Regions from separate parts of the Homo sapiens genome. Here region 1 is linked to region 2. Evidence: fine-mapped expression QTL. Tissue or cell type: whole blood. Region 2 holds a variant in brackets; the other region holds the start of a gene. All regions are shown on one strand. Distances are between the middles of the regions.

Evidence for each region. PIP is the estimated chance that this variant, and not a neighbour inherited with it, causes the effect.
Region 1: MARVELD1 starts here. The variant in region 2 is fine-mapped to the expression of MARVELD1 in whole blood (TOPMed, PIP 0.93).

Annotation. Positions count from the first base shown.
Region 1 is chr10:97,712,039-97,714,716 of GRCh38, reverse strand. It overlaps MARVELD1 (MARVEL domain containing 1), which reads right to left and starts at 987. Exons shown (of 2, transcript NM_031484.4): 1 at 1-987. The coding sequence starts at 840. The coding sequence ends at 319. RefSeq lists a silencer at 96-315 and an enhancer at 626-675.
Region 2 is chr10:97,881,286-97,883,963 of GRCh38, reverse strand. It overlaps CRTAC1 (cartilage acidic protein 1), which reads left to right. Exons shown (of 15, transcript NM_018058.7): 13 at 1,136-1,178. Among named protein-coding and RNA genes, the nearest start is that of MIR3085, 6.7 kb to the right of the region's middle. RefSeq lists a silencer at 1,178-1,472 and an enhancer at 761-1,960. The variant GGAC/C (reference allele first, on the strand shown) is at 1,287.

The DNA.
Region 1 (2,678 bases), 170 kb after region 2:
GCGAGGTTTCGCCTCGGGGCGGCTCGTCTGCGAGTGTGTGTCAGCCCCTCGGATCGCAGCCTGCGCTTGTCCCGGGAGACGGCGCGTCCGGCGCGGCGGTCGGGATTCTGGGCTGGGATTCTGGGCGGCGGCGGCGCTGCCGTCGGGCGGGAGCTGAGCGTCAGGGTTCCCGGGCGCGGGCGACAGTGGAAACGCTGGAGGGCAGGGAGAGGGTGCCAGGGCGCACCCGCGCGGGGCGGCGGCGGGGGAAGGGATTAAGGAGGCTGGTCTCCGGGGATTCCCCCGCCCCGATCGGGGCCGCGGCGGGCGCGGGCGGCCTCACGCCACCTCCTGCTTGCCCTGGCAGCGACGCCCGCAGCCATAGAGCGCCGAAAGCAGGTAGAGGCCGTGGCAGACGCCGCCGCAGACGGCGGCCGCCAGGAAGGCGTGGTAGGCGCAGGGGAGCGGGTAATCCTTGAGGTTGCAGTAGCTGTGGCGCTGCATCTGGTCGCTCATGATGCCGGTGGCGGCGCCGTAGAGCGCGGCCGCCAGCACATCGTGCGCCACGTTGACCATGAGCCAGCGCGAGCCCAGCACGGGGACCAGCTCGTGCTTGCCCAGCAGCGTGAGGAAGTAGAGGCCCAGGGTGAGCAGCCAGAAGAGCACGGACACGAAGAGCGCGAAGTGCACGGGGCCCTGGTACTTGCTGGTGGCGATAGTGATCCAGAAGGCAGCGCCGGCCAGCAGCTGCAGCAGCCGCAACACGCCCAGCGGGCTGCGCAGGAAGGGCCGCTGCAGGCGCACCGCGCCGCGGGCCGCACGCGCCTGGGGCGGCGGCTGGCGCGGGGGCGGCGGGAGCATGGCCCCTGGGCGCGGTGGCGGCGGCGGCGGCGCCCCGAGCAGCGGAATGGCGGCGCCTTGCTCGCGGGGGCAGCACGGCCCAGGTGCCCGCTGCGCCCGCCGCGGCCTCCTCGCCTTGCTCCCCTCTTAGTCCTCTCTTCCTCTCCTCCTTTCCCCACCCTTCCTCTCCTCTCTCCTCCCCTCGGCCCTCCTCGCCTTCTGTCTCCAGCTCTCCACCCTTCCCACCCGCCCCTTTCCCTTCCCCTTCCCCTCGGCTGTCTCCTCCCCCGCGCGCTCCTCCCGGCTTCCTGCCATCTCTCTTTCCATCTCGCTCACCACCCTGGCGCCCCCCTTTCCCCTCTGCGCCAGGCCCCCAGCTCGGATTCCTTCGTCCTCGGGCCAGGGCAGGGCGCATCTCCCAGCCCGACGCGGGCCTTCCGCCCTGTCCGCCCGTGCGCTGCTGCGCCAAGTTTGCCACATCTGGGGCCGCCCCTGCCCGCCCTGCCTCCTCCTTTTCCCTCTTTCCTGCCATAGCGCCCACCCCGGGCCTCTGGGCTCTTCCTGGGCGCGGGAGGAGAGCAGTGCTGGTTTTGAACTGGCATCCACTGTCACCTGGACATCCGCAGTCTCCTGCCAGGGCCCGCCTCGTCCTGTCCAAAGCTGTCCGAGTTACCCATGTCGGAGTAAGAGTCCATCACCCACCAGAGGCACCGCCACTCGTTCCACTCGGCACAAGCTTATTGTCCACACCCTCTTTTATCCAACCCTTCCTTGCCATCCTTCTGTCTTGCCCACATTCAAAATACGCTACCTAACATGGCTGGGACACAAACCCAGGGCCAAGAGGAAGCAAAGCCCACGGACTTAACTACTAGGCCGAACTGCCTGTGATGGAGGCTAACGATGCTTTACATTATTATTATTCCGTGCCACCGCTTTACCTGAGTTCTCATTTAACCCTCAAAACAACCACAGAGATACACGCAACTCCCCTCATTTTGCTGAGGAGGAATGAAGCCTACCTGGGTTCAGACCAGGAAGCTGGTAACTACCACCAGTCTCTCTTCTCTCCTTCATGCTCAACCTTTGTGCCCATGGCATCTTTCTTTTTTCTTTTTCCTTTTTTTTGTGGGGGGGGGGGTGGGGGGCGGTGGGGTAGAGTACTGTTCTGTCGTCCAGGTTGGAGGGCAGTGGAGCAATCTCTGCTCACTGCAACCTCCGCCTCCCGGCCTCAAGTGATTCTCCTGCCTCGGTCTCCCAAGTAGCTGGGACTACAGTCGCGAGTGCCACCACACCCAGCTAATTTTTGTATTTTTTTTAGTAGAGACAGGGCTTTGCCATGTTGGCCAGGCTGGTCTCGAGCTCCTGACCTCAAGTGATCTGTCCCCCTTGGCTCCCAAAGTGCTGGGATTACAGGCGTGAACCACCAAGCCAGGTCATGACATCTTTCTAAAAGACAGACCTGATGTTTGTTACACTGCTTCCCCTACTGAGACAGGACAGAAGCTGTCTCTTCTGTGTGGCCTATTTCACAATTTGTCCCCAACCAATTTCCAACTTCCTGGCTTGCCACTTCCTTCCCTGTCCCATGCTGTCACCCAGCATACAACCCACTAATCCTTTCCAAATTTCCCAAGTAAGCTCAGAATGCCCTCATTCCCACACCCCACTTGACAGCAAAACTCCTATTTATCCTTCAAGGCTCAGTTTAAATGCTGCTTCCTTTTGGTCCAGCCTCTGAGGCTGCTCTTCTAGGCCCCCAGTTGGACCATCCCTCTGCAGCAGTGTTGAGTCGGCTACATCATAACTATTGGATATCATGTCTTATCCATCTTTGCCTGTGCCTGGCTCATAGGAGA
Region 2 (2,678 bases):
TTACAGAGGAAGAAAACTGAGGTTAAGAGAGGAAATCCACCAAGGCCCACCAAGGCTGTACAGCCAGTTGTGAGCAAAGTTTTAAAATGACCCCAGGTCTGTTGCTGCCCTCCTGGTTCTTTCTGAGTCTCTGACAAGACCTCCTATTGCCCTAGGGTGGGGCTCAGAGCCTGCACCAGGTTTTCTGGAGGCTCTTTGAGGAGCAGCTCTGGACCCATCTCAGCAGTGTCGTTCCAACTCTGATGGGGTTCACTTGGTGGCGATTAACAGGAACCCACTGAAACTGACACAAATGAAGGGGGCTTATAAGGAGGATCACTCATAAAACTCAGGGAAGCTCAGGATGAGTAGAAACTGGCAGCTTGATGGCCTCAGCCCTAGGAGCTCAAGGACCTTTGTCAGTGCACTGGCTTTGGGAGGAGAGGGGCCCCTCTTCCCCAACAATCCCCATCCACCCACCTCATTCATCAGTACGGTTGATTGACATTTTGTGTCATGTGTGTTACGTTTTTAGTCCCCTGCCCCACCCCAGGCTGCTGTCTCTGAGACCCCCATATGGGCATGGTAGAGCCTCCACAGCCTGGCAGGGCCGGCTCCCAACTCTTAAGTCTCTGAGTCAATTTGTTCAAATTCTTGCTGCAAAGCCTTGAGTCTTCCCTCCTGCTAGGATGTCCACCCATCAGCCCTGGCCAGAGAGGTGGGACACAAGCATGGCTGCAGGCACCCACCCGTGTGAGGGAGAGGTTCTTGGAGAAGTGAATGTGGGCAGTGAGCAGACACCTCAAAAAGCATCTCCCAGCCCTCATTACACTTTGCCCTGACAGACCCAGCCTCAGTCACAGGGTGATGCTACAGAAGGGACAGGTTCTGTTAGACGTCCCAGCTCGTGTGGATCCTTTGCACAGGGAAATGAGCAAGAGTCTGAACCGTATCCATTCATGGCCTTCCCGCCAGCCTTCTGTTCTCAGCGCAAAGGAAGGGTCTTACAAGGGAGGGGGCTCCCCCCAGGCCCAGAGCTCAGAGCATGCCTCACACTGTGGTTAGGGTGACAACTACTCTGTGGCTGTGACTAGGAGGGAACCTGGGATGGGACCTTCTCAACTCACTCATGTCTCTGCTTCTGCCCACCTTACAGTGTGGCCAAGGATTCTCCCAGCAGGAAAATGGCCATTGCATGGGTGAGTTGCCTTCAGTCACCAGGGCATGGGGTAGAGGCCGGAATCTCCCTGGGGAATGCCCGCCTGACTCATGCCAAGGTCCAGGGTGCAAGCAAGGGGCAGAAAGGA[GGAC/C]AGGGGAGGGTGTTGTTTGTCCTGGGACTCCAGATGCCAAGACAACCACCACATGACTCACCAGGGTGGGAGTGATATTAGTGACCCACAGGCTGAATCACTGCGGTTCTGGAAACTGGCAGTGTTTTCCTGCCATGAGTACCGAGAAACTGCAGATGGGAAGGAGACACACCACCAACCTGGCACAGGGGGAATAGCCACATGCCATGGCCAGCAAGTCCATGTGGAGCAGCAAGCAAGGGGGCTGGCAGGCAAGGGTGTGCATTGCCAAGGGCATTGGGGCAAAATAGTGTATGGAGTGTGGTCACAGTGTGGAACGGAGACTGCAGCCTGGTGCAGTACTGGGGCAGGCAGGTAGCTGCAGCACTACCAGGATGGCAGCTCCTTGACGGTCCAAGAACCTTCTGAAAGTCCCCAAGAGCCTGGAATGGGAAGGGGCAGCCTAGAAGTTCAGTGTCCAGGAGACCTTCACCCCCAACACTTTCCATCCCAGTGACCAGCAAGGAGGGGTCAGGCCAAGGATCCCTCCTTCCTTGAACCCTCATCCAGCATTCTTCCCAAGTCTACTCTGCAGCTGCTCATTAACCCTTTGCTACTGAGATACAGGAGTAAACAAGACAGATACCACTCTCAGGAGCTGAAAACCAATGGAGAGCCACAAAAGTAAACAGCTGTCGACCACACAGTGTGATCAGGGCCCAGATGGGGGAGGGCAGGGGCTTGGAGATGACAAAGCAGGGGCCCTAAACCAGCCTAGGGAGGGTCCTAGAAGGTGCCCTAGAGAAAGTGAGGTCCAAGCTGGGCCCTGAGGAATGAGGAGCAGTTCGGCAGTCACAGAGAGGGGAGACATGGTTCTGGTGGGGGGCACTGTCTGAACAAAGGAGCACAGGTGGGGAGGTGGAGGAGCAGTGGTGCCAAGGGTGGCTGGAGGAGGAAATGACTCCCCTACACTCTCCACATGCCCACCCAGCCCCACTCCAAACACATAGTGCAGGTGCATAGAAATTCCAGAGTCTTCTCTGCCTGCAGGAAGGACCCTTTGAGATCAGCCTCCTCTTCCTTTTCATCGCCCAACAGGCAGTTATGTGCCTCGTACACAGCAAGTGTCATGCTGGGAGCTGGGGATGTAGGCCAAGTGCCACCCCCGCGCCTCCACAAGAGGGGCATCCATTCTAGTGGAGGGAGACAGACCCTGAACGCATGACCACACACCTGGACAAGATGATTTCAGAACCCTCTGAGCAAGGTGCTCCCTGGAGACTGTTCCAGAGAGAGTGGTCAGGGAGGGCCTCGGGGGGAAGACTCTGAGCTGAGACCTGAAGGATGAGAAGGATCTAGGCCCAGAAAGAGTTGAGGGAAGGGCAGGAGTGAAAAGCGGGAGACAGGACA